Linked DNA regions of Homo sapiens: all the other regions are linked to region 2. Evidence: fine-mapped expression QTL. A gene starts in region 2. Each other region holds a variant in brackets. All regions are shown on one strand. Distances are between the middles of the regions.

Region 1 (10,383 bases), 64 kb after region 2:
AATTCAAACTAAATGCCATGCAATTTATTGGATTTTTTTGGAATTAGGCTTCATCTGAAACACTAGGTGTTTCTCATAAAGATATCATTGTGGCTGCTAGATGACTATGAAATGTAGCTCAGAAAGGACATTATGAAACATAGCTCAGAAAGGAAACCTACACTCTTTCTCAGATACTCCAGGCTACACATATTTGACAGTAGCACTTACTTATATTATACAAAGTACACTTTGATTTGGTTTTCCTTGAATTGTTTCATTTTTTAGTTAGTTATGAATAGACTGTGGGTGAGTGTATGTGTGTGTGTCTTAATATGTGCTGCAAGTAGAGCCATCTGGGGATTGTGGGGCTGCCAGAAGTTCACTTAATATACCTTCCTCTGAGTTCAGAATTAGTAGGCAATATTGATATGGGAAGTTGAGTACAAATCTAGAATCTAGATCTATAATCTAGAATCTAGAATATAGATCTAGAATCTACAATCTAGGCAACAAGCTGAATGCCTAATAGACTGCCTTTAGTAATTAGCTACACTTCCATTTTTCTGCCACCATTTCCATCTATAAATGAGAAAATGTTTTATCTTCTATAAAATGAGTATATTGGACTCAACGGTACCGAGTTTAAATAAGTACTTATTTAAATTAAATAAGTAATACCACCTCAAAGTAGGTATTCCATTCTAGTTTAGGAGAGTAACAAGTAAGAGTCAGGTAAAGCATAGGCACCATGAGGACAAGAATACATTCATTTACTTTTCATGTTCCCCTCAGCACTGGTTAACATGACCTGCATATCCTCTTGGGAGGTTCATTCATATCTGTTGGCCTGTTAATCCAGTGCTGGAGATATGATTGATGAATAGACATAAAAAGTCTACCTATGACTTTCTTTTATGTGTTACATCTACAACAAACTAAACTGAACTCTCTTAAATATATAAGCTTTAACCACAAGAAATGTGAAAGTGGAAAAATAAAAAGATGCAAAGACACAATAGTGATAATTTGAAAATAATCTTAGCCACAATCCAGAAGGTATGTATATCTACATATATTTTTAATGTATTTTACCCTAGTCGCCCAGGAAAATACTTCACACAATAAAAGATGCTCAAGAAATTTTCATTGGCTTGATTTTTTTTTAATTTAAGCAGTTGATAATGGCAATTGTATTAATGAGGTCAGTTATTGAAGCAATACTTACCTCCTAAAAGTTTATATAATCTACATGTGGATAACTATTTAATCTTTTTGGAATTAGGCTTCATCTGAAGGTATCTTGTCATTTGCAGATGCTATTGGTGTCCTCCAGTCTTGCATTATTATGTATGCAACACAGCCTAGAGGACAGAGGACTGGAAAAACAGCAAGAATTATGTTAACTGTAAAAGAGCACTACCAACTTCCCTGCATAGCTTTGATGCACAAAGTTGTCATTCTTCCAACCTACTAACAGAAACAGCAGTACATATAGGTAGAACAAGTATAAAAAATGCCTATAGGGATAACAGAATGCAGCAATATAAGAACTCTTTTCTAAAGAGCCTGTGAGCTGGTACACTCAATAGAAAACTCTTGGAATTTTTTGGTAGAATCATAAATGTACAAAACATCTTAAATAGATTAAAAGTATAAAATAGTAAGGTAAATATGAATGGCAGTATTTCATAAGTATAGGTCTAACTCTGACTTGTTCCTTGAACAAAGACTCCTTAATAAGTACTACATACATTAAGAAATGAAAACAGGAAAAATCTCATGTATGCATATTTTTTAATTATAAAGAGTGACAGTTGATATTACAGTAATTATTCAGATATCTACAAAATTCTGGAGTACCTTGGGAAAACTTAAAAACGGGAGTAAGCTGGATTTCATTACATTTCTGAATTAAGTGTATTTTGTTAAATGCTAATATTTTGATGACTAGCACACCATAGGAATGTTGAATGTAGAAAATGTTTATTGATCATCTTATCTGAATAAGACAATGTGCTAGGTGATTTGGGGAGAAAAGATAAAAGGTACATCCAAGTTTCTTATAATGTATTAGTGGAGCTAACAGAAAACACAACTATTTTATAGATTCCCTTACTAGTAATAATTTGAAATATTCTTACATTTAAATAAAATTTCAAAGTTGGATATTGATAAATCTCATTTTTGGGTGATGAAAGAGAATTTTAGATAATTTTCCTAAACAGAGAATTAGTCTCAAAAAGTGAAAAGTAATCTTCACTGACTTCCTATTGCTTTTAGAATTAATTATAGATTTTCCTACTTGTTCCTAAAAGCATTATACATCATGACCCAAATCTATTTACATACTACCATTATTTCTCAATACTGTATATGTAAATGCCTAATAAAATAGAATTTATATTTCTATTCCCTAACCACAATCTGTGCCTTCCTGACTTAGTACCTTGGTTTATGTCCTATAATATCATTCACACTACTAAAAAATTTATCTCTCTTTTAAGGCTTAAGTCAATGTCCATCAGCTGCATTAATATTATTTTGGTTTCTTTTCAGAGTAGTATTGATACTTTGCTTTAATCTCTCTTTCAAAGTACCAATTATGCAAAATGAAAACACCTGGCATGATACAAAGCCCTATATGAATACTGGTTTTTCTTATTTCCTGTCTTTTTTTTCTGACTCTTCAAATATTTGATAAAGTAGATCACAAGGTATCAAACTGTTGCTTGGCAGTAGGCATCCTCAAAGAACTCAGTCAGCATCAAATGACATAGAGTGATAAGTAAACTGATGTTTACAGTATAGAAGTAAAAGGACTATGAGAGTAGTAGGAGAAGGAGCAAACATATTGAAACATAAAACACAGACTTGTGAAACAAAAATGTCTTCCAAAATTCAAGTACTGAAGTATACCTGAAAAAAATAATGTGTTTGAAGGAATGATAGAAGATGAGTCTAAAAAGAATAAAAGAAAATTACGAACTGTTATGTGTGATAAACAAATATCTATGAATCTTATTCTGAAAGCTATAATTAACGTGGAAAGGTTATAAGCAGAAGATTAGATGTGCATCACAGAAGGACTATTGTGGGATCAGTGTGAGTCATAGTTGAAGATCAGACCGTCTTCTATAGAAAGGGTCAAGTGATTAGGTTAGCCCTACTCATATAATTTCCTCCTTTTAACATTAATTGGCAAATGACCTTAATTACATCTGGAAAATCATTTTTGCCAAGTGCAATAACATAAGGGAGAAATGCCAGGGTGTGCAAATCACGAGAGACATTTTAGAATTTTGCCTGCCACAAAAAAGGGATGTTAATTGCCATACATAGTTACCATAACATAGTGTAATTTAGATGTAAAGAAAATGAAAATTAACCAACCAATGATTTCCAAAGATACTTTTTACTGTAAAAATATGTTCTCATTGTAGTTGTAACAGGTTCTCTCATTTGCTATGGATCCACCTTTAGATGCAGCATATACATATCTAAATAAAACACATTATAATTTTTTTTATGTATTTATCCTTGAAGACTGCTATCATTTGGGATGACTATATATATGTTTTTATTTTTATTATTTTTGCCAGTAAAATTATGGACCTTCTTTTCAACCATCAGGATAAGAGCTAATATGAAGTCTTTAATAGTTAAAAGTAATAAAAAAATTCTATTTTTATAACCTATTTTATTAGTAGTTCTAAATATGAGTATTACATATTCAAACATTTAAAGATAACTTGTGGCTTAATTTATGTGACAGGTAAGAGATCTGGAATACATGGATTTATTTTATGCAATAAAACAAAATATGCAATATATTTTGTTTTGTAAGTACCCTAATGCCTCGAAGTGTATCTTATCAAGGCCAGACAAGTGCTCAGAATAAATATTACTTAGTACAAAGGTATTATTATGTTATTCATAATAATAGCTTTGCATTTTCAAAACTAATTCTATATACACACATATACTGATCCTATAGTCATATCATTAAATCAGTTTACTTTTTTCCCAGTTTTTTCAATCCATTTAGGTCAGAGCTCTGCAGGGGTACCATATCACAGAATTTAGACAATATATTTGCATAGTAATGTCATATTATTTTATTTGGAATTGCATGAGATGTTTTCACAGTCAAGTGAATTGTTGGATTAGTAACTTGAGCTCACTCTAAATCAGAGAGTTGAGGATCATATTTAGAGAGTAATGAGTTTAAAACACAATCTTTGTTTGTATAACTAGCCACCCTTTTATAAAAGAACTAACCAAGTAAAGTTGATCCTATTAATCAATCAACAATAGCAATAGGAAAAATCAATTTCTGAAGCTGGCTCAGTTGCTCTTTTTTTGATCAAGATAGTTGTAACCCTGTTTCTTTTACTTCCTTAA[C/T]CCTACCTATTTTACCCCCCCCCCACACACACACATTATATTGCTTATAACAATTAACTTAAGAATAGAACTAGGAACTTTGAAGAACAGTCACTAATACATGCTACACTGGATATAAGAGGCTTTTAAAATTTGTTTGTTTATTGAGCAAATATTGACTACAGATTTTCTGTAAATCATTATGGGCAAGTATGGCAATATTTAGAATTAGTTTGCAGACCCTCACTTAAAATAGACAAATAAACTCAGGATTTTGTGACCCAGAAAATCTGAAAACAAAATGCATTATATTGGAAAGACATGTATTTCATAAAAGGAACAATGTAGAAATGAACATAAATCCATTATATTTAACAATAGAACTAGTTATTCAGTTACTTAACCCTTTGTAAAATCATTATAGAAGCATAATTTAAAGAAACACAGTACCTACCTTAGAAGCAAAGAACGCCTAGTGAACTTCAACCAGTCTCTTAATTCATGTCTTCCAAAATAATTGGAACCCTACATATCAGTGGTCCCCAATCTTTTTGGCACCAGGTTTTGTGGGGATAGTTTTTCCACAGACAGAGTCGGGGGTAGTTTCGGGATGAAACTATTTCACCTCAGATCATCAGGCATTAGTTAGATTCTGATAAGGAGAGTGCAACCTAGATGCCTCTCACGCACAGTTCCCAATAGGATTCTTGCTCCTGTGAGAATCTAATGCCCAGCTGATCTGACCGGAGGCGGAGCTCAGGCGGTAATGCTAGTTAAACTGCAACTCACCTCCTGCTGTGCAGCCCACTTCCTAACAGGCCACAGAAAGCTACCAGTCTGCAGCGTGGTACCAGTCTGTGGCCCAGGGGTTGGGGACACCTACTATATATTGTAAGGAAATTTGAAGATTTTTAAAATCAATATTCCTAATTTGGTTATAAAAATGTGTATGCTTGGGAAATGTTTTCAAACAATTAATATTAAATAGAGAAGGAGTTTTATTGAAAACTGAGGCAATCCAAAAGACTTTTAATTTCTTTTGTAAACTTAAGAAGAAAAAAGTACCAGTATCGTCCATATAACATTCCTCAGAGTATAAGAGCCTATAGGGAGGTAGCTTGGGACAAAGAAAGAAACACGGCACAGGCAGTACAAGCTAAACTCCAACAACTAGGAGCTGCGTGAACTTTGGCAAGTTACCTCTCCTCTCTGAACCACAACTCATTCATCTATTAAAAAGACTGATTTTTTAAATATATATGTATTTATTAAATATGTTGGAGTTTTAAAGGTCAGGATTTATATAATGATCCAGTGAAGTACTTACAGAAGAGGAAGTAAACATCAGAGTCCTCTTTGGTGTCAAAAATTACTTCCGTATAATTTCACATAACTAATGGAGACTCTATCTGAGCTCAAAAGACACAAAGAGCAAGTCCTCAATAATTTGAAGAGAGCTGTGATCTTCAAATCCATTGTTGTGTATTTTCACCCCCAACCTATACCTCTTCCATTTCTTTAACAATTGAATTGTTTTAAGATATTCGACAATTAACTCTCTTCACTACATTTCTTTAGTTTGTCTCAGAATAAGAGCTAAAAGTGAACATCATACTTAAGACATGATTTGACTAGTAAAATTTGAGGAGTCTACCTTTCTGTTCTTAGGACAGAATACTTTCATTAAAGATAGAGGACAGGAGTGGTGAAGATACTTTATCTATCAATGTGACTCATATTGAGTTTGTCCAAATCTTCACATTCTTTTCAAATGTGCTGTTTTTTATGAAATGTTTCAATCTATTCACATTTTCCGTATCATATTTAGAGTTGTATAATTCACCTAGTCTTCAATACCAGTATCTATAGAATAATATTTACTAATGATGCTTATTGCACTTCAGATAAAAACATCAAGTAAAGCAAAGAAGAATTAACTTATGTGATTCAACATAACGATCCTATTCAAGAAGAGAATGATAGACATATTAAAATAAGATAGTGCTTTGATTTTTACATAAAAACTCAAGTACTTCAGACACATGATTTTTTCATAGGTAACACTGATGTCTATAAACAACAAAAACTACAAGCCCCTGGGTATTGATGGCATTATCTTGCATACAAAACTATTGCTATGGAAACAAAGTTAAAATTATTCTAAAAATGTTATGCTGACTTTTAGTCAGCTCAAATAAGCTCTTGTGACCAACTGATTTAGAAACAAATTGCTAGATAGTCTTCCAATTGAGAGTAATTTAACAGACTTCATAATTAAGGTAGATGTGTCTCTCATTTGTGTCAACATTGGACACTTAAGATTTAAATTTAATTTAAAATTTCTCCATTATTTCTAAGCAGTCAATGATTTTGATCTACTGTTGCTATTAAAATACATGAGATTAACTCTAAAGAGGTTTGTATAAATTACTAAAAAAATAATATTACTAAGGGGAAAATATTAAGGCCCTAAATCTGAGAAATGGAGTAAAATTAATGACTAGATGATGTCTTTTAGTGCAGTATTTTTACCTAACATTTTATTCCTAACAATCATAAACAAATAATTTGGGACCAGACTTATTAACTGTCAGTGATTATCTTGGAAAATATGAAACAATATGATAAAGTTAAGAGCTTAAACCCTGGAGTTTGATGTTCGGATTCCAAACCCGCTGTAGCATTATTAGCCACATAAGTGATTGAATTCATCTGTGCCTTAGCTTTCTCACTGGTAAAATATGAATTATAGTAATCACTATGTTATATGATTAAAGTAATAAGAAATAGATGAGATTGTGGTTTTAATATTACTCAGTACAGCATTTGACACCTTAATAATGATGGCTATGGGAGAAAATAAAATCTCTCAAAATGAGAAAAAATAATTTTTACATCCTTAACCACCCACTCAATAACAAGTAATATCATAGGACAAATAAATTACTGGGGAACACTGTTGGCATCCTGAAGGCAAAGTTAAAGAAACAGAGATGGCAGAACAGATCCCACAGTAGTTAGCCTTATATGGACTCTGAGAGTTAGGGAGCTGTGGTGCTTGCCTATGCTGTAGTGTTCTGGGCTAGCCCAAGGCAGAGAGGTCTTATGCAAATATCAGCCTTGACACAGCAACAATGGTGATTTATTTTGAAACCTGTAGATTTATTGCATTGCGGAAGACAAGCTCCCAAGGCTAAGGATGAGAAATTCTTGTCTATTTTCTTTTTTTTTTCCAAGTAAAAAATACCTCCCTGGAAGCCCAGAAATCAGTCTGTAATTGCCAGCCTATAGTATCACCTACTTATGTTACCTATTTACTTCACATTTTACTGTTTACACATATCTTTGATACTCTGTTTCATTTTATATTTATGATAAATAATTGTAAGAATTTTACAAAGAAATAGTTATTATCTCCAATCTTTAGAGAAGGAAAATGAAGTTTAGGATATCTTATTTATTTATTCCAGATAGCGAATAAGTAATAGGGCCAAGATAAGACCTTCTAATCCCATTTTATTTAACGATTTCTCATAATGGCTGAAGCTAGTCAAGTAATGCACTGACTAGCTTTAGCAGGAGCAGGAAAATAATTTAACTTATTGTATTATTATATTAAAAGACATTGGTGGGGTAGAATATAAAGATTATTGCATAGTAAGTTAGTGAAGGATGACTAGGGCAGGAAATTAGGAAAATAATAGAAACTATGTATCTTAATGTCTGCAAATTCCCAGTGGCCTACTGAGTTACTGATAATAGCAAGAGGAGACTTGGCATCTAGAAGAGGTACTAAAGATATACTAGAATAGGGCATATCTCAGGTGGTGTGTATTCCAAAACAAATTACTTCCATTATATTTTCTTCGGGTCCAGTATTTACGGCATTTTCATATGTTATTTTAAATTCAGGGATTAGTTATCTTGAGTCAATAGCTCATAAAGGCTGTTATATGACCTTATAACATATCTGGTAGAAATGTGACTTTTTTTCTTTTTTTACATTTAAAAAGAGAGGAAAAAGTGAAAATATTCTAGTATTTTGTTTGTGCTGATGCCTAGCTGGGGTTTAGTGAGGTGGCCTTTTTATAGGCTGTAGTAAACTTTCCATGCTGTCCAAGTGGATTCATGTTTCTCTCAATTACAAAGGGCAATTATAATATACTTATATGTGTGTTGAAATCTGATGCTCCATAAATATAAAATCTCGTTCTTTCATGAGACTGATTGAAATCTCAGTGCTGACTGAGCAAGTAACACCTAGATTGCCCTCTCATTGCTTGGATCATATGGACAAGGCAAGCCATCCATCAACACAGACTGGCACAGAGGAAAGGATATTGTTTCTGATGTGAAGGCTACCACTGCATGCCAGCGTTGGCTTATGAAATTAGCTAAGAATAGGAGTCTACAATGAAATACAGCAGTTTTTTCCCCTATAAGACATTACAGACATTTGTTTAACGTCTGCTAAATGATGTTTACCCCAGTCTACTAAGGCTCATCATTAGCTCTTCACGATGACCTAGTCACCTTCCTTATAAGGGGAAAATGAGAGGTAAAATGTACAGTGAACATTTAACCACCAGAAGCTAGGAGAGGGGTATGAAACAGATTTTCCTCACACCTTTCAGAAGGAACCAACCCTGCCAATTCCTCAATCTTAGAATTCTAACCTTCAGAAATGTGAGAATAAATTTCTGTTGTTTAAGCTACCCAGTTTGTGGACTTCCGTACTGCAGCACTAGCAAACTACACACTGACCAAGAAATGAAAAAAAAAGAAAGTAATATGACAATTACCCAAAAATGTGAGCCAAAGACCACTTAAAAATTCTAGAAATTTAAGGCAGACAGCACTTCCCCATACTGTATAATTGGGAATTTTAATTGTCTTTATTTTTATCATTTATTGAAAGATGTTATGTTACTGTGTTAACTTTTAAAAAAATAGCATAAATATATATTTCATTTAGTATAATACCTAGGGTTACACACTTCTAGAGTAAAACTATAAGAACATGGATGAGCTGTATTGATACCTACTTGTGTTAACTATATGCACATTGTTTTCCAACAGATCTTTAGAAATTTTTCATCTCAGAAATGTGAAATTCTATATTTGTTGAACAATAACTCACTTTGGTACTTTTATTATCTTTTATATACTTATGGTAAGAAAATAATCACATATTAAATATGGGTTTTTTTACTTTTAGAAGACAAAAGATATTTTTATTAATAATATATATGTAGGGAGCCAGATAGGATCCCATGTGGGATAGTGGTAGTAGAAATGTTTCATGAATTGATGGTGTTAGACCTATGACTTCATACACAGTTATGAATAATAACTAGGTTTTTCTTCTTAAGAGTATGTCATAGAACTTGCCCATCACTATAGGTTTTATTATTTTCCCGTCGAGTGTCCCAAAGTTACACAGAGTGCCAATAAGACCTCTCTTCTTTTATGACACTGAGATACATAGGAAACAACAGGAGAATAAATTCCATTTGTGGCTAATGGGATGTTCAAGATGTCTCTTTTGAAGATAAGAATGTTATTTATGAGATCCATAAATCAGAGCTCAAATCTGCTCATTTTTAGGGGGATGTTAACAGAAAGAATTAGGTAACTCATTTAGGATACATGCCTTTCTTCTCAGGTGGCCCAAGGTCTAAATTCTGCATAATTGTTGTACAAAAGGCCTGTTACTTCACAAAACAAATTCGTATTTTTCCTGTTAATCCTAAAAGCAAAAGATCCTGCACAGACACAAACAATTCAAAGACAAAGAATGCGAGTATGGCTTTACAGGCCTTAGAATAAAGGAGATTCATTCCCTACAGTGTCAGATCCAATGTGTCATGCCTTCTTTTAATGGCTCTGTTCCAACCACTCCCTCTGAAGCAAATACAATGATAGCCCATTTATAGGAGCTCACCTTGCAAAATAATTGACTTTTCTAATTGGAATCAAGGAAGCACTTATGATATACATATACATAGATATACATTGTCT
Region 2 (9,757 bases):
TTATTTATTGGGTTTCCATGACCCATTTAGATGATCTTGCCTCAAGGAAGTGATGATCTGGAAATATAGGTTCAATTCCTAAAACAATGCTGAGAGAGATAAACACAGCAAACAGAAGTTTCTATGCAATAGAAATAGATTCCAAAAGTATGATGTCAGTTTTGATGTTTTATTAAGTACTGGAGGTGTTCTGCCTATAGACAAATGCAAAGATAAGTTTTATCTGCTTACTTATATTTGCTTAATGCTCTATAAATCTCACATGAATTTGCCTCCATGCTCACTTCATATATTCTAATAATATAGTTGATATTCTATTTAAGTGTTAATGCAACTACTATTTTCAGAGCCATTTCATATGTGCTAAACAATAAAAGCTGCGTATTGGACAACACAGAAAAAAGTAAGACATAGACTTATACCTTTTAATTGATCTACAGTTATTTTCACTAGAATTTTAGGCCAGATCTCTCCCAATCAGAGCCAAGTAGAGGGGGAAATAGAGTTGGCAAATTTATGCAGTATGATGTTTAAAGTCCTATTTTCCAACGTCACCTTGTAGCATGTCATTTTGACTTGCAATTTGTTGTTTTATCCTTGAACGGTTTGGTCTTCAGTTTAATCAAACACTATTTAAATTTGGATGTTAACAGTGATGTCATTGATACATTTGGAAAATATCTTATTCAAAAGGCAGTATCTTCATAGGAATTTGTGATAAATAGATCAAAGGTATCTAAACTCTCACACATAAAGCCAATCCCTGCCACTTTAATCAAAATGTGCATTTTAGCAAGTGTCATTTATTATCTCTACTGTAACATAAATGTAGAATATGTAGACAGTGTTAAAACATAGACACATCAAGCAGAATGAACTCTTACTAGTCAAGCAAGAAGATTCTTTATGGAATGCATAGGAAAAGCATTTTTCATTAAATTGGAAGTATGCATACAATACAAATTGCAATGGAGAGCGTTAAAACATTGGCTAATGAAAAATTGCTGAAAATTCTCCTAAGAATTTTCTGTATTACGCATCTCAATTTATTTCCTTTAATGCTTCTGTCACTGTAGGTACTTCTCTGTTACTAGAAACTCATCTTTTTTCTACAAATCCACAATATGTCAGTTACTCAACTATATTGATTCCAGCATTCTTTTCTTGTTCATTCTATAGTCAGCATACGGAATGCCATTGACCTCCACAGTTTCAATTGCCTACATATTTATGTTGATCAAATATATATTTCCAGTTCTCACATTTTTCCAAGCCCTAAACCTCCTTATCCATTCAAGACACATTCAAATGTCTTTTAAAAATATATACATGAATAGCTAAAATGCCTCTAATAGGTAGGTCAACAAAATCAAGTTGAAAATCTTCCTCTGTCATTTGTCAAATAGAATTATCTTCCAGGAATCACTATTTAAATAAATTGTATCACAGTTCATCCAGTTGCACCATCAGAAACTGAAGTAACATATTTTATACATCGTTTAGTAACTCCAACATATCCAACAAATGATAAAACCTATGAAGTATTTCACCTAAATATATCGAGCTATTTGTATCTTTAGTGCCAAGTTACTTATAGAATCCAAAAATGTTTTCACCTTTTACTAAGCCTACTGGAATAATCACATTTTTCAACCTTTTATTTTTCCACCCATAATTGAGGCTTAACTTTGCAATACTAAAATCTGACTTGCCATCTAATTATGAAGAAACTTTCAATAGATTTCTACTATGTTTATATAAAACCAATATGCTTAAAATGACCTACTGCAGCCTTGCATGAATTGTCCCTTATGTGCATAGAACAAATTATTAGTATCAACTATTAACAAAAAATAGCATTTATCCTCAATAAGCTTATTAGAAAAGAAGAGATATCACTCAAATAATTCTACAAGCAGATGTAAAATGCAACTGTGACTAGATAAAAAGTCTGTAGAGCTTTGTGAGCCTATAGTAAGGAGGCCTGATATAGGCATATAGGTGAAGGAAGGTTTGATCATGTCTGAAAAATCTGAACAATAATCTAGATCATGTCTGAAAAATTTGAGCAGAAATCTAAAGATGTTAGGAGTTAATTAAGTCAAAGAAAAAGACTGCAACATTAGCATACAACATCACATTCAATGCATGTAGGAGGCTATTTAGATCGTTTACAAACAAAAAAACTATATATTTTGCATTGTACTATTCATTTATAATTGTTCAGGCTAATTTTATGACCCATAATATGGACTTGACTATTGGGTATACACTGGGAAAGCATGACTATTCTGCTGTTAGGTTCAGTGTTCTATAAATTATTGTAAGTGGCTTATTGAAATCTCAACAATGACTATGGATTTATCTATTTCTCCTTGCAGTTCAGTTTTTGATTCATGTATTTTGATGATCTCATATTAGGTGTCCAAAAACATTTATGATTAAGTTCACATGATTAATTGACCCCTTTATCATGATAATATCACTTTCTTATTTCTGGTGACAGCCTTTTGCCCAAATATATATATGTATATCTATATATCTATATATATATAGATATATATATATAGATATACATATATATGTGTGTGTGTGTGTGTGTGTGTGTGTGTGTGTGTGTGTGTGTGTATATATATGCCCTAAAATAGCCACTTCAGCTTTCATCTGATTAATATTAGCATGGTATTTTTCCATCCTTTTATTTCTTTATATTTAGTGTACTTAACGTAATTTTGCTGTGGTATCCAATCTAATAATCTCTCCCTTTTAATGGTATATTTAAGGTATTTACATTTAACGGTGATAACACATATGCTTAGGCTTATACCTATCATTTTGCTATTTGTTTTTTATTCTCTTCATTTTTTTCTTTGTTCGTCTTCACTTTTTCTGCCTTCTTTTGGATTAGTTGTTTATATTTTATCTCCTTTATTGATTTGTTACCTACAATTCTTTGTTTTAGAAGTTTATAATAGTTTTCTATTGCTATGTAACAAATTATCACAATTTAGAATCTTAAAAAAACACATTTATTATCTCACAGTTTCTACAAGTCAAGATTTTAAGACAGTTTCACTGGGTCAAGGTTTTGCATTCTGCTCAAGGTCTCACAAGTTTTCAATCACGATGTTAACTGAGTAGCGTTATTTTTTATTTGATTATTTGTAGAAACTTAATCCCCTCAGGGCTGTTTGACTGAGGGCCCCATCTATTCATTGGCTATCAGCTCAGGTCTATTTACAGGTCCTAAAGGCCACTCAGAGTTCCTTGCCATGTGATAACTACCACAGGCAACTTACAACATGGTTGTATGCTTCTTCCAGGCCAGAAGGAGAATCCCTCTTTTTTTTGTGCAGTCTGCTAAGCTTCTGCTATACATGGAAATGGAGGCATGAGAGTGGCATGCTATCCCCTCTGCCTAACAAGCAACCTAATCAATAGAATGACATCCCATCACCTTTATTGTATTCTATTGGTCACAATTTCTATCTGCACTAGAAAGAAAGAAATCACACAAGGAAATGACTCACTGGTAGCCCTTCTAAAGTGTGTTGGCACTATTGCTTCAGAGAGTCTAGAACACAGTTTTAACTCATCAGTTCACCTTCAACTGATAACAAAACTTCAGAGAAACTATACAAGCATATAAATTTACTTTTATTTCTTCTCTCCCACACTTTGTGCTACATTTTACTTTTACATATGTTATAAAACCCACATCACAATTTTTTTTCCTTTAAAGATAGGGTCTCACTTTGTTACCCAGGCTGAAGTGCAATGGCATGACCAACTCATCACAGCTTTGAACTGGGCTCAAGTGATCTTCCCACCTCAGACTCCTAAGTAGCCAGGACCACATTTCACTCCTTTGTATACATTCAGATTTGAAGCTAATGCCATTTTCATTCTGCCTGAAGAACTTCTTGTTTCATGTGGGATCTTATGCTGAAAATTTCCTTCCATTTTTGTGTGTTTAAGAATGTCTTTAGTTAGCCTTCTTTTTTATTTTTATTTATTTTTTGAGACAGTCTTGCTCTGTCACCCAGGCTGGAGTGCAGTGGCACGATCTTGGCTCACTGCAACCTCCACCTCCCAGGCTCATGCCATTCTCCCGCCTCAGCCTCCCGAGTAGCTGGGACTACAGGTGCCCGCCACCACGCCTGGCTAATTTTTGTATTTCTAGTGGAGACGGGGGATTTCACTGTGTTAGCCAGGATGGTCTTGATCTCCTGACCTCGTGATCTGCCCACCTCGGCCTTCCAAAGTGCTGGGATTATAGGTGTGAGCCACTGCATCCAGCCTAGTTAGTCTTCATTTTTGAAAGCTGTTTGCTGGAAACAGAAATCAAGGTTGACTTTTTTTTATTCTTACAGTACTTGAAAGATGTTACTCTACTGTCTTGCTTGCATTGTTCCAAGAAGAAATTTCCCGTAATCCTTATCTTTGTTTCTATGTAACATGTGCCCCAACACCCCTTATTACTTTAGAATTTTTTATCAATGGTTTTGAGTTATGCAATTATGGTATAACTTGATGTCATTTTCTTAATATTTCTTGTGTTTGAGATTTGTGAAGCTTCTTGAATATATGAATTTATATTTTTCATCACATTTCAAATTTTTTGGTCTTTATTACTTGTTTTCTTGTCCTCTCCCCTTGCCTCTCTGAGACTCCACTTTCAAGTATATTATTAGGCTGTTAGAAGTTGTCTCACAGCTCACCATTGATTTGTTCATGTTACTTTATTTTCATTTTTTAATGTTGTGATTGATTTTGGGTAGTTTCTCTAGAGCTGTGTTTCACTTTCATTCTGCAATGTGTAACATACTATATTAATACCATCTAATTCCATCTATCACATTGTAGTGTTCACCTCTACAAGTTTGATTTAGGTCTTTATTACAAGCTTTGTGTCTTTGATTAACTTTTTTAACAGCTTTTATGACAGCAGTAAAGTGTAAATTTAGCGGTTTTCTGTATAGAATTGTACAACCTTCACCATAACCGAAGTGTAGAACATTTTATTTATCCCTTTAAAAGAAACACTATATCCATTTGCAGTCCCTCCCCATACTCTCTCAACCTCTCATTCCCACCAATCCCCAGCCCTGGACAAGCACTATATAAATTTACTTTCTGTTGCTATAGATTTGTCAAATCTAGACATTTCACATAAATGAAATAATATATTATGTGGTCTTTTGTAATTAGCTTCTTTCACTTAGTATATTTTCAAGGTTCATATTTTAGCATGTAGTAACCATTATTTAGCATGTAATAAAGTTCTCTTTACTACTGATTAATACTTCATTGAATGAAAGTATGCATTTTCACTCACCAGCTAATGGGCCTTTGGGTTGTTTTTACCTTTCAGCTTTTGTGAATAATGCTGCTATAGAGGTTTGTGTACTTTTGTGTCCCCATGTTTTTATTTGTCTTGGATATATAACTAGGAATGAAATTGTGACTCATATGGTAACCCTACGTTCAAAGCCTATGCACCAGTTTACATTTCCATCAACATGAGAATTCCACTTTCTTTACATCCTTAGCACCACTTACCTTTTTCATTATAGTTCTGATATCTTTTTGAAGATATGGGATATAGTTACAATAACTGTTTTAATGTCCTTGCCTGTTGATTCTAACATTACTTCAGTTCTGATCAGCAATTGATTTTTCTCCTCATTATGTGTTTTTTTTTTTCTTTTTGCAAGCTTGGTAATTTTTCTTTGTATGACATATGTAAATTGCACCTTTGGTGAACATTTTTCTATTTCTATAAATACTGCTGAAGTTTGGTCTTGTCATCTGTCATGGTTTGTTAAGTTTGATCCATTTGGGTCTTACTTTTAAGAGTTAGATGGCACTACAGCACTGATCAGCTAGGACTAATTACTGCCTACTAAATAATTAGTAAACAACTATCAAATCAAGACTTTTTTGTGTGTACTCTGTCCAGTGTCCTACGGACTATGAAGTTTTCCAGCCTGGTTAGTGGAAATAGAGACTATTTCTGACCCTCTGTAATGTCCATATATATATATTTATATATATATATATATGTATTTTTTTTTTTTTGTGAGACGGAGTCTCGCACTGTCACCAGGGCTGTAGTGCTGTGGCGCAATTTCGGCTAACTGCAACCTCAGCCTCCCTGGTTCAAGCAATTCTCCTGCCTCAGCCTCCCGAATAGCTGGGATTACAAGCGCCCACCACCACGCCCAACTAATTTTTTTTGTACTTTTAGTAGAGACGGGGGTTTCACCATGTTGGCCAGGCTGGTCTCAAACTCCTGACCTCGTAATTCACCTGCCTCAGACTCACAAAGTGCTGGGATTACAGACGTGAGCCACCGCGACCGGCCATGTCCTGGTATCTTTAAAAATCTTTTAGCTAGTTTCTTGAGACACATACTGCTCAGTACTCAGCTGAATGAATACCAAGTTCTCTCTCAGCAGTTATCTTTCTCCTGTACTCTGCAAAGAACATTACCTACCTTGGTCTCCCCAGAATATCTGTTCTATTTTGCCAACGCAGGCAATCGGCTGGGCTCTGCTTGAGTTCACTCTCCTGCATCGCATCTATAAAATACTAATATCTTTGAAAGCAGCTCGCTTTTTGAGCGCAGATCATTTGCTTCCTGTATCTCCCGGATCACTATTCTTTACTGATTCCCAGCGTCTTAGAAACAGCCCCACTGTTTTTCGGGGTTTTGTTTTTTTTTTTCTACAGCAGTAGTGAATATTTTAAATAAAGTGTCAATGCTGTAAGTTTCCCTTAAAACGCAAACTCAAGGAAATGCTTTCCCTTTTTCGAGTAGAGAAAGAACTTCCACAGGCGCGCGGTCGAGCTCAAGCCCACTTATAGTCTCTGGCACCGCGTAAGGACTAGCGCGCAGGCGCAGAGCCCGTGCGCGCCTAGCCATAACCGCGCTTGCGCCAAGCAGCGAGGCCCGCCAACGAGCGAATCCGCGCCTGCCAATTAGAGCGCACAATGGTCCTTGATGCCCGCCCACTAACCTCTGCAGCCAATCGCCTGCCCCGGCGCGAAGTCGACTGTGACTTCAAAGTAATCTTAGGGATTGTGGGAAGGCAGCTGAACTCGGCGCCTGGAAAGATGGAGGCAGCGGAGACAGAGGCGGAAGCTGCAGCCCTAGAGTAAGTGTTTGCGGCTAAGTGGCAGCTGGGGCCGGGCCTGGGAGGACCTTGTGGGCCCCTATGTGTAATGATTGGTGCCCTCGACCCTGTACAGCTGTTGAGGTTCGACCCTGCCGTGAAGTGATCCTCACCGCAGTCCCGTCTTAGGTTCCTGAGGTGTCTGTTGCCTGCTCCAGGAGTACAGCCTTTGGGGGACCGTTCGCCGCTCCCCACATCCACATAATCCACAGGATGTGCTCTAGGAGACGGTTTCACTTCTGTCTTCTTGTCCCAACACGACACATTCCCAGTCACTTCTCATCCCCATCCCTGCCCCTTCGTAGATTGCTCCAGTCCCTAATAATGAAAAACCCTAGAGTAGACCGAGGCATCCAGCCCTCTGCCCTGAGTCCTTTCTCAGCTATTCCAAGACTCTGCCCCAAGGCTGGTGCTCAGCGCCAGGAGGGATCCCAAGGCCCAGCATTCTTCCCCTTCCTTGCATATCTCCCTGGCTTCCTTCACATCTTGACTCAAATGATTTCTCTTCAGTGAGACACTCCCTATTTAAAATTTCAGCTCTTTTCTCAAACTCCTTATCCACTAGCCCTGCTGATTTTCCTTTTGGCACGTATTACCACCGTGTGCCCTCCATGCACGCCATTCCTGGTTGCAGGCTGTGGACCCTTCAGGCCCTTGTGTAAACTCTGGTCAAGGCAAGACTCTCAATACTATATATACTGATATACACATCCACATTTGTTTGTGTACACACACGAACTGTAGAACTAGCACCACAAGAAACTGCAATTTCCTGTGTTTCCTTGCCCCTCCAGGGTCCTGGCTGAGGTGGCAGGCATCTTGGAACCTGTAGGCCTGCAGGAGGAGGCAGAACTGCCAGCCAAGATCCTGGTTGAGTTTGTGGTGGTATGTACAAGATGAGAGCGAGCCTTTCAGAAGCCAGGGTCTGGTCCTGGCTCCTCTTACTGAGATACAGGGCAGCACTGGCAGAGAGCAGACTTAAGGAAACCTGTAAGGAGGTAAGGATGTTCCCTGTCTCTGCCCTCCCTCTGAGCAGGACTCTCAGAAGAAAGACAAGCTGCTCTGCAGCCAGCTTCAGGTAGCGGATTTCCTGCAGAACATCCTGGCTCAGGAGGACACTGCTAAGGGTCTCGACCCCTTGGCTTCTGAAGACACGAGCCGTGAGTAGGCAGGGGATTGTAGTAGCAGCTGACCTGAGTGGGGAAGGAAGGAGGATTTCAGTTAGGTCTCCCATTTGGCTGATGGGAAGGAGGCCCAGTGTTGCAGGGAGGCAGGCTAGCAGGCCACCCTCACTCATGTACTCATTCCTGGTGGCTCATCTCAGGACAGAAGGCAATTGCAGCTAAGGAACAATGGAAAGAGCTGAAGGCCACCTACAGGGAGCACGTAGAGGCCATCAAAATTGGCCTCACCAAGGCCCTGACTCAGATGGAGGAAGCCCAGAGGAAACGGACACAACTCCGGGAAGCCTTTGAGCAGCTCCAGGCCAAGGTACACCCAGGGGTCTTGAGTACAGGGAGGGAAGGGCAGTTAGAAAGGAAGAGGGAAAGAGTGAGCAAGCTGAGTTGTGCCAGCTTGCAATCTCCCAAAATTCTAGCCAGAAAAAATAGACTTCTCTTGGTCTTTCTCCCTTGCTTATCTGTAGAAACAAATGGCCATGGAGAAACGCAGAGCAGTCCAGAACCAGTGGCAGCTACAACAGGTAGGTTCGTCCCCCTAGGAGAATATCCCTTCCCACCACCATGCCATTGTATCGGCTGTGTCCCCTGTCTAGAAAACCGTTTTGCTTCCTCCTTTGAGGCACTATAATATAAATACCAACATGGGCTTGAATCTCAGTGTCACCACTTACCACTGCATGATCTTGGGCAGGTCACCTAACTTTCTGTTTCTTTATTTAAAATGAAGGCAATAATACCACCTACTCTAGAGAGTTATTAAGATGATTAAATGATCATTACAGCAAGGACTTTAAAATAGTACCTGGCACATAGCAAGTTAAATAAGTGTTATCACCTTTGTGCCCCTTCCCCGCAAGAATGCCTCACCCTAGAACAGCTCATTCTGATCTTTCCTTTTCTCTAGGCCCCTACTCCACCCTGAAGTGAATAGAGTCCCTCTTTTCATCATTGAGCCTGAGCCCTGAGCTGGGTGTAGGCTGGAGGGGTTGGAGGGAGTTTCTAAGACTTCAACATCTGATGCATAATGTCTGCATGCTCACTCCTGGCAGGAGAAGCATCTGCAGCATCTGGCGGAGGTTTCTGCAGAGGTGAGGGAGCGTAAGACAGGGACTCAGCAGGAGCTTGACAGGGTGTTTCAGAAACTTGGAAACCTGAAGCAGCAGGCAGAACAGGAGCGGGACAAGCTGCAGAGGTAAGTTCGGGAGCATGGGCTGCAGATTCAAAATGGTCCAGCTGAGATTCCTTTCCTTCACACTTACCTCCTCTTTGTAGGTATCAGACCTTCCTCCAGCTTCTGTATACCCTGCAGGGTAAGCTGTTGTTCCCTGAGGCTGAGGCTGAGGCAGAGAATCTTCCAGATGATAAACCCCAGCAGCCGACTCGACCCCAGGAGCAGAG
Region 3 (10,383 bases), 910 kb before region 2:
CCCATCAGAGATAAAATGGATAAAGAAAATGTGGCACACATACTGGAATACTATGCAGCCATAAAAAAGAATGAGTTCATGTCTTTTGCAGGGACATGGTTGAAGCTGGAAATCATCATTCTCAGCAAACTAACAAAGGAACAGAAAACAAAACACCTCATGTTCTCATTCATATGTGGGAGTTGAACAATGAGAACACATATAGGGAGGGGAACATCACACACCAGGGCCTATCGGGGGATAGGAGGCAAGAGGAGGGAGAGCATTAGGACAAATACCTAATGCATGTGGGGCTTAAAACCTAGATGATGGGTTGATGGGTGCAGCAAACCACCATGGCACATGTACACCTTTGTAACAAACCTGCACGTTCTGCACATGTATCCCAGAACTTACAGTAAAATAAAATAAAAATTTTAAGAAAGAAAATACACTGTTTTCTTTTAAGAGTTTTACTGTTTGAGTGTTCACATTTAGGAACTTGATGTAATTTTAGATAATTTTTGTACATGCCATAAGATAAGGGTTCCAATTCTTTTCCATGTGGATAAATAGTTGTCTCAGCGCCATTTTTGGAAAGACTGTTCTTTGTCCCCGTTGTATTATCTTGGCAGTGTTTTTGTATAATTGCCCATAAATATGAGAGATCCCGAGTCCCAATTATTTTATATATATATCAATATTCATTTTTTCATACATACAGTGCAGTTAAGTTATATATAACATATAAGTTATGTGTTATATATACATTACATATGTCACATAAGCTATATAACTTCTATATATCATAAAAATTATATTGATAACTTACAAGTTACATTGATATATGATATATATAACATATCATATAAGTTATATTTCATATAACTTATGCTAGTAGCACACATCTTAATTACTGTAACTTCCTAGGAAGCTTTATGTTTTATATATTATACCTTCAGTTTTATATATTTGAAGTGTACAACATGATGTTTTGAGATACATATAGTGAAATGATTACTAAAGTCAAGTAAATTAACATATTCATCATTGTACACAGTTACCTATTTTGTATGTACATGGCAGGAGTGCCCAAAATCTACTCTTTTAGCAAAAGTCCTGAATACAGTATAATACTATTAAGTAGAGACCTCACTATGTACAATGTTTCTAAACTTGCTCATTCTACATATCTGCTATTTTGTATCCTTTGACCTTTATCTCCCCATTTTTTCCTCATCCCCACCTCCTTAACCACTTTTTATTCTCTGTTTCTGTGTTTTTGATTTTTTTTTTTTTTTAGCAAGCATTAAAATCAGAATCCGTGAGTCCTACAGCTTTTTCTTCCTCAAGGTTCTTTTGGCTCTTCTGTGTCTCTAACATTTCTATATGAATTTTAGAATCAATTTATTGATTTCCACAAAAATGCTTTATGTGCTTTTGAAGGGGATTAATTAAATATGCAGATCAATGTGGGGAGTAATTACCACCTCAATAATATTAAGTGTTCTGATCCAGAAATGAAGGATATCATTCAATTTATTTTACTTTTTATAATTACATTTATTTTATTTATCAAAATGTTATTTTGTAGTATTGTGTATACAAGTTTTGCATTGATTTAAATTTATTGATATATAATTTTTCTTTATAAGCTATTATAAATGAAATTGTTTTCTTAATTTCATTTTTGTATTGTTCATTGCGAGTTTATAGAAATAAACAGTGATCATTATTGCTTTGTGTAGTTGTCTTGAAGATATGGGATACAAACAATTACAAACAAAAATATATTTTTTTAATATTTATCTATCTAGTTACTTTTACTTGTAATCTTTATTGCTTCACATGAATTTGATTTACTCTCTAGTGTTTTTTCATGTCAACCGAAACGACTCTCTTTAGCATTTTTTCTTGTAGGGCAGGTCTGCTAGTAGTACATTATTTTACTTTTTGTTTATCTGAAAAACTCTTTATTTTTGAAGGATTAACTTCTATTCATATATTAGTAGAACTGTTGATTGTCAGACTTTTTTTTCTGCGCATTGTAAATAATGAGTTGTTTCTGTTTTGCTGTTTTCAAGATACCCTCTTTAGCTTTTGAAAGTTTTGTTATGATGTGTGAAGATTTAGATCTTTTTGAATTCATCCCACTTGCAGTTCACTGAGATTCTTGGATGTACAGATGAATGGTTTTCATGAAATTTGGGAATTTTTTAAATCATTATTTCATCAAATATTGTTTCTTACCCTACATCTCTTTTTCCTCTTCTTTCAGGGTTCTCATTATGTATAAATTGATATGCATAATAACGTTTCTTATGGTCCTTGGGATCTGTTTATTTTCCTTCATTCACTTTTCTGTTCATTATAATGGCTAATCTCAATTCATCCCTCTCAAGTTATCAGATGCATTCTTCTGCCAGCCCAAATCTTTAGTTGAGCTTCTCTGTGATTTTTTTCTATCAAATACTATATTTTCCAACTTCACAGTTTTTATTTCATTCTTTTTTATTTCTATCTTTTTATCATTATTCTCTCTTTGATGAAACATCATTTGTATACTTTCCTTTAGTTCTTTAAATGTGGCTTATTTCTTTGAAAATATTGAAAATAGGTGATTTTAAAGTTTTGACTAATGATCAAAAATTGTGAATCTTTAAGGGCCATTTCTTGTTGTCTTTCTTTTTTGTATGGGACTTTTTTTTGTATTCCTTTCATGTCATGATTTTTAAATTGAAGACTTGACATTTCATATAATATATAGTGTTCCAACTCTGAAATACAGATTATCTCCCATCCTTAGGTTTTGTTGTTGTTTCTTTTTATAGTTATTTGTTGTCATTGTTAATATTTATTTTGTGACAAGTCATTTTTAAAATCTGTATTCATTCTCATGTGGGTCTGCTAAAAATCTCTATTCAGTTAGCTTAGTGGTTGATTAATGAGTGGTCAGTTAAAGAGATTTTCTTAAATACCTGCAACCAGCGTTTCTCATTCTCTGCAAAGGAGGTAGGTATGTATTGGGGCATACCTTCAATGTTCAGTGAAGCTGTTATTCTCTCTGTTCTTATCTACAACTAAACATTTTTCTTGAAAAAAAATTCCAAGGTTTTTGAAATCCTTTAGTTAATTTCAAGGGCCAGCCCAAAACTTTGCCTTAACTTTCAATTTCTATTTGTACAGGGCCTCAAGTTCAGCCAGAAATGAGAACTTAGGTGTTTTCTTAATGTGCACACAGCCCTCATCATATACTTAAGCCTACATATGTGCACCACCTTCAAAATTAACAGAAATATGCCAGAGGTTTTCAAAGCCCCTCCAAAATTTTATTTCTTGGCTATTTATTTTAACTTTTTGAATTAGTTTACATTTTGCCATATTTTAAATAACAACCTTAATTTAACATTTAAATGATAATGCTAAACAACTGTCATTGATTTCCATTGACAAATGACTCAAGGAAAATGTTAGCACAGGGTGAGCTGCAAGTTATGTAAGCAAAGACAAACCTTGTGAGTGTATTTTTCTCTAGGAAAATGCTACATAAGTAAAATAATGATACTTATCTGAAAATTAAGCTTTGAAACTTCTCAAACCCCATTTTGATCCTTGCAGTGACTGTTTACCTGCTGAGTCACTGTGATTGAAGGCTGTTGGTTTTAAGAGTGCCAAATAACTTGGATGAGAGGGATTGGACTAGGTTAAGTTAAAATGCTACATTAAGTGTTTATTGCTATTCTTAAGGTCCTTCAGAGATTTACATTGATTAAATTCTCCTCAGATGTGAAAAGCTTTGGCTAATTTCCAAGGATCCAAAAAGTTGATTTTGATAATTTCACTGACGTTCTTATCATTTTTATGCAGAAGAGGACTTTTGGAGGTCCTTATTCTGTCATTCCTGATAATGTCACTTTTCACTTTACATAAGAGTTTCTTTTTTTCTGCGTCATTACCAGCATTTGTTATTTTTGTATTTTTTATAGTAGCCATTATAAAAAATAAAATAACATCTCATGGTTTTGCTTTGCATTTCCCTGCTGATAAGTGATGTTTAGCCTTTTTTAAAAAAATAAAAACTTGCTATATCTTCTTTTGAGAACTATTTAGATCATTTGTGCATTTTGAATTGCATTATTTGTTTTTATATTGTTGAGTTGTTTGAGTACCTTGTATATTCTGGGTATCAATCCCTTGTCAGATGAATAGTTTGCAAATATTTTCTCTCATTCTCTATGTTACCTTTCATTTGGTTGACTGTTTCCTTTGCTGTGAAGAAGCTTTTCAACTTGATGTAATCCCCTTTGTCTTTTTTGCTTTTGTTTTCTGCTTTCGAGGTCTTATTCATAAAATTTTTACCCAGACAAATATCCTGAAGCATTTCCCCTATATTTTCTTCTAGTGGCTTCATACATTTGAGTCTTATATTTAAGTTTTAATCCATTTTTAATTGCTCTTACATGAGAGTTAGAAGTCTGAGAGTTAGAGGTCTAGTTACATTCTTCTGTATATGGATATCTAGTTGTTCCATCATCATTTATTGAAGACACTGTTCTTTCTTCAACATACATTGTTGACAACTTTATCAAAAATTAGTTGGTTGTAGATGCATGGCTTTATTTTTGGGTTCTGTATTCTGTTCCATTGTTACCTGTGTCTGTTTTTATGCCAGTACCATACTGTTTTGATTCCTATAGTTTTGTATGACATTTTGAAGTCAGGCAGTGTGATGACTCCAGCTTTATTTTTTTTGTTCATGATTGCTTCTGCTATTTGAGGACTTTTGTGGTATCATACAAATTTTAGGATTTTTTTATATTTCTGTTAACAATGTCATTGGCATTTTGATTGGTGTTGCACTGAATCTGCCTATTGCTTTGGATAGTATTATCAGCAATATTAATTCTTCCAGTCTATGACCATATGACATTTTTCCATTTTTTTCTGTCCTGTTCAGTTTTGTTCATCAGTGATTTTCAGATTTACTTGTAGAAATCTTTCACCTCCTTGGATAAATTCATTCCTAGGTGGTTTTTTATATTAGCTATGATAAATGGAATCCCTTTCTTGATTTTTTAAGCTAGTTTGTTATTTGTATATAGAAATGCTACCTATTTTGTTTGTTGATTTTATGTTAGTGAATTTGTTTATCAGCTCTAAGAGTTTTTGGTGGAATCTTTAGATTTTTCTCTACATGAGGTCATATTATCTGCAGACAGGGTCAATTTGACTTCCTTCTTTCCCATTTGGATGCCCTTCATTTCATTCCCTTGCTTAATTGCTCTGGCCAGGACTTCTAGTAGCATGTTAAATAAGAGCAGTAAATATGGGCAAGGGCAAACTTTTCTTATTCCAGTTCTTACAGGAAAAGCTTTCAACTTTTTCTCATTCAGTAGATGTTAACTGGGGTTTTTCATTTATGGCCTTTATTGTGTTGAGCTACATTCCTTCCAAGCTTAATTGTTGAGAGTTTTTATAATAAAGGAATATTGAATTTTATCAACTGTTTTTCCTACATCTGTTGAGCAATCATATGGTTTTTGTCCTTCATTTTGTTGATGTGATATATCATGTTCATTTATTTTCATGTGTACAATCCATCTTTGCATCCCTGGGATAAATCCCTCTTCATCATAGGTATAATTTTTTTGATGTACTGTTGGAATTGATTTGCAATATTTTTTGAGGACTTTTGCATCTTTGTTCATCTGGGACGTTAGCCTGCACTTTCCTTACATTGTTATGTTCTTACCTGGTTTTGGTCTCAGGGGTATTGGTTGTTGTTTGAAGTCTGGTGAAATTTAGCAGTGAAGCCATTCAGTTCTGGGCTTGTGTCTTATTGAGAGGCTGTTTATTACTGATTTAATCTCATTACTTGCTATTGATCTGTTCAGGTTTTCTATTTATTTCTGGTTCAATGTTGGTAAGTTTTATGTGTTCAGGAATTT[A/T]TCTATTTTCTCTATGTTTTCTAATTTGTTAGTGCATAGTTATTCATAATAGACTCTAACAGTCCTTTGTATTTCTGTGGTTTCAGTTGGAATGTCTTTTTTGTTTCTGATTTTATTTATGAGTCATTTCTCTTTTTTCTTAGTCTGTCGTTACATAGGGTTATCACTTCCATAGAGAAATAGTAGCATATAATAATGAATCTACCAATAGTTATTTACTGGCCAATAGTTGAACTATTTAGTAACTGTAAAACAACCTAGAAGAAAGGACAATGTGAGAAAATTTTATTTTGTAATTGGACAACTGCATAAGATATTTTATGAGGTGGGTGTTTTGGCTTTACTGTATAACACTTTACTAAATATCTCGTATTTCTCTGCAGCTAACTCTTTCTAGGTATGACTAATATAAAAGTGGTCAATTGACTTTTTAAAGTGATAAAATAAATTGCATGTCATACAGAAATATATTCAACGATATGCCTGAATGACCATCTTACTCAATTTAAAAATGAATAATTTTTGCCATATTTATTCCTGGATGTAAACATGAGAAAGATATTTTGTAATTACATTTGGGTAAAATGTATGGTTTTACTTCCACTCATACATGCAGTGAAATTCCAGGTTATAAAAAGTATATTCTTCTAAACTACTCTGTGCTATATAACACTAGTAGGGCCTAAAGTTGTTCTACAAGTTCCTAGTTTACCCCTAGAAACTCACCTATGCACTGAGAAAAACAAACAAATACATTCATACTCATCTACATTTAATTAGCCAATTATATGTTAGAAAAATAAGAATAAATAAGTACAAGATTAAATATTTTTAAAACAAATATTGTTAAATATGCAAATTAATGAATAAATAAACTAGCATAATTCCGAACCAAATAAATTTGTCTTGCTGCATACCTTGAAGGTCAAAGTGAAAAGTGACATCATTAGGAATGACAGAATAAGGACTTCCAAAATCCTCTTCTCTGTTAAAGCAATAAGAATACCAGCAAACTTATCAAATTCAACTTTTTGGAACCCTGGAAATTAGCCAAAGCTTTTCATATCTGAGGAGAATTTAATCAATGTAAATCTCTGAAGGACCTTAAGAATAGCAATAAACACTTACGTAGCATTTTAACTTGACCTAGTCCAATCCCACTCATCCAAGATATTTGGCACTCTTAAAACCAAAAGCCTTCAATCACAATGACCCAACAGGTAAAAGGTCACTGCAGGGGTCAAAATGGGGTTTGAGAAATTTGAAAGCTTAATTTTCAAATAATTGTCATTATTTTACCTATGTGTCATTTTCCTAGAAAAACAAATCCGCTCACCAAGTTTGTCTTATTTAAGTGTGAATGTGAATTAGGATGGATATTATGAAAAACAGTATAGAAGTTCCTCAAAAAACTACAAATAAAACTACTATATGATCCAACAACCCCACTACTGGGTATATATCCAAAAGAAAGAAAATCAGTATATCAAAGAGATATCTGCACCATCATGGTTATTACAACACTATTCACAATAGCCCAGATACACGATCAACCTAAAGGTCTATCAACACATGAATAAAAAAAATGGTGTATATATGCAACAGACTACCATGTAGCCATAAAAAAGAATAAAATCCTGTCATTTGCAGCAACATGGATGAACCTGGAAGACATTAAGTTATGTGAAATAAGTCAGGCACAGAAAGAAAAATACTGCATATTCTCACTCATGTGTGGAAGCTAAAAAAGTTGATCCATAGAAGTAGAAAGTAGAATAGTGGTTATTAGAGGCTGTGGATGGCAGGAAAGCAGTTAGAGAGTAGTTGGTTAAAAGATAAAAAATTATAGCTAGACTTGGAAGAGTAAGTTATAGTGTTCTATAGCATTGTAGGATAACTATAGTTAATAATTTATTGTACACTTTTGAATAGTTAGAAAAGATTTGGAATGTTCTTAACACAAAGACATGATAAATACTTGAGGTGATGGATATCCCAATTACTCTGATTTGATCATTACATTGTATACATGAATTGTAATATCACATTACACTCTATAAATATGTACAATTATTATGCTAATTTAAAATACTAATACAAATGTACTAATGTCCCAGTTTGTCACAATGGTAATTAGAATTTAAGATACAAACCATTAAAGGAGAATGTTACTTTAAATGGACTGTCTCTCAAAGATAATTTTTCTAGGTACCAGCCCAGTACAGCACAATCAGTACATATTAATGAAATGCTCCAAATTATCTGTTCTGTTTTTATTTTCTCACTCCATTCTCAGCTCACCCATCCCTCGGAGTATATTACCTATATTGTCACTAGTACTTATCTTTCTTTGCTGTAGTAAAATCACAAATAATAGGAAAACTTGAATAGTTTGTAATAAATATTTTTCCTGTTTTTTCCGTAAAGCCTGACTATCTCTACACTGCCCCAGCAGGCTTCTCAAATGGGATTCTTCACCATAAATGAGATTTAGTCAATTTGGTGTTGGAATTTTCTCCCATTTCTGGTAAAACTTCTGCCTGAGCTGGAGAGCGCCAATCTCTTCTATGAGAAGAACTGAGTAGATGAGAATTTCAGATGTAAAATACTTTGAAAAAGGATAAGAAAATTGCATTTAAGAGTTGTTAGCAAAATTAGAGGACTCTGCATGCTAGCCATACCTAAAAGAGAGGTTCTAAATTTATGACCTTGATAGGGGAAGGGTTGATGTGAAGAAAAATCAGAAAAAAAGAATGAAATAAAGAACAATAGGAGTTTCCATCCACAACATGTACTGTTCCTGGCCTTTTAACATGCAATTAATTTTTTAATCTGAAAGTATTTTAGTTAGTGATATGCTAGGCTTCAAACTACTGATATTCAGATTATGTTGCAGAAATAGTCAATTTTATTTAAGAAAAGCTGGAAAGAGAGTTCCTGGGGGACTTTGACTTGCCTTTTATCATAAATAGCTATAATACTGGGAAAAAAAATTTAGGCCTTTGACACCAGTAACATGAACCCTGAAATAAGGGAGGAAGGCAAGATGAGTCCCTTTATTTCTTAAGCTTAATACCAGAAAAGTGAGCAATGAAATAGCATTGTTAGGTGAATAGAATTTCAAGGTGCAAAACAATGTATATTTACATATACATTTACATAAAGAAAATGTGTTTGTACAATATATACTGTATATACTCTCAGAATACATATCAAACATTTTTTCATCTCTAGGGATGGAGTGAGAATGAGTTAGTTGTAAAGTTATTGTCTTAAATTTGTCAATACACATGGCAACTGCTTACATTATTTGTAATGGTGTGTTTGTATATTATCTTTGTAAATTTTTAAAGAAAAAATGTTATAAAAACAAAATAAAGCCTTGATAATGAGTTTGAGGGCCGGGAAACAATAGCCTTTGCTCATTAACATATTAAAGCTGTAAAATGGATATTTTTCCCCATGAGCTTCAATTAAGCTTTTGTATTTCGAATGGAAAAAGATGTGTGGAAAAATGTATTCATTTTTTTCTGAATTCTTTTTTTTTTTTTTTTTTTTGATACTGAGTCTCCTCTGTCACCCAGGCTGGAGTGCAGTGGCGCGATCTCGGCTCACTGCAAGCTCCGCCTCCCGGGTTCAAGCCATTCTCCTGCCTCAGCCTCCCGAGTAGCTGGGACTACAGGCGCCTGCAACCACGCCCTGCTAATTTTTTGTAGTTTTAGTAGAGACGGGGTTTCACCGTGTTAGCCAGGATGGTCTCGGCCTCCTGACCTCGTGATCTGCCCGCCTCGGCCTCCCAAAGTGCTGGGATTACAGGCGTGAGCCACCGCGCCTGGCGTCTGAATTCTTTCTCTATAGAAAACACAAAGCAAAATTAGATTAAAAATACACATGCATAAAGCGCAGCTCCGCCGTTGTTTCAGTAAATGGTGTGACGTGGCTAGGCAGGGCTTTTTAGGTCTGGACCCAAGTTAACTTGAATGCCACGTAGGCTACAGTTCATTTTTACCAGATTATTTCTTATCTCCTGTAATATATTGCACATATTCACCCATTTAGTTTTACTTATTATTTCTCTAATTTTGGAATTTCCTTCACCATTTCTGCCTACTGAAATGCTAATCAGGTATTGAGCCCCATCTCAGGTGTTACTTTCATGATTAGTTTTTGACTTGCTGACCCTCTGGCAATTGCTGTCTTCCTTGCCTATTCACACACTGTTTTCCATTACAGATAATTGTGCATATTTTAGTCTCCACCGCTAGACCCCATCTTCTTTAGGGCAGAGGTTATGTCTTAATTAATATTAAATCTCTGTCTGTGTAAGATCTTATACACAACATGTTGGATTGACCTGCACGTAACTGTGAGATGTTCTCATTTCACCCTGTCCCACAGCACTGATCTTTAAAGAAGGTTGGTAATAATCAGGGGTGATTTTCCGAAATTTTGTAAT

Evidence for each region. PIP is the estimated chance that this variant, and not a neighbour inherited with it, causes the effect.
Region 1: its variant is fine-mapped to the expression of ZWINT in subcutaneous fat (GTEx, PIP above 0.99).
Region 3: its variant is fine-mapped to the expression of ZWINT in whole blood (TOPMed, PIP above 0.99).

The regions. Positions count from the first base shown.
Region 1 is chr10:56,293,887-56,304,269 of GRCh38, reverse strand. No RefSeq gene overlaps it. Among named protein-coding and RNA genes, the nearest start is that of ZWINT, 62 kb to the left of the region's middle. The variant C/T (reference allele first, on the strand shown) is at 4,384.
Region 2 is chr10:56,358,599-56,368,355 of GRCh38, reverse strand. It overlaps ZWINT (ZW10 interacting kinetochore protein), which reads left to right and starts at 7,097. Exons shown (of 9, transcript NM_007057.4): 1 at 7,097-7,160; 2 at 7,973-8,063; 3 at 8,215-8,338; 4 at 8,503-8,669; 5 at 8,824-8,880; 6 at 9,409-9,551; 7 at 9,632-9,757. The coding sequence starts at 7,120. LOC124902546 (a long non-coding RNA gene) reads right to left here and starts at 6,897. Exons shown (of 2, transcript XR_007062372.1): 1 at 6,500-6,897; 2 at 3,637-4,331. RefSeq lists a silencer at 6,830-7,039 and enhancers at 7,130-7,299, 6,648-7,387, 8,127-8,867, 8,013-9,212.
Region 3 is chr10:57,269,566-57,279,948 of GRCh38, reverse strand. No RefSeq gene overlaps it. Among named protein-coding and RNA genes, the nearest start is that of MIR3924, 30 kb to the left of the region's middle. The variant A/T (reference allele first, on the strand shown) is at 5,928.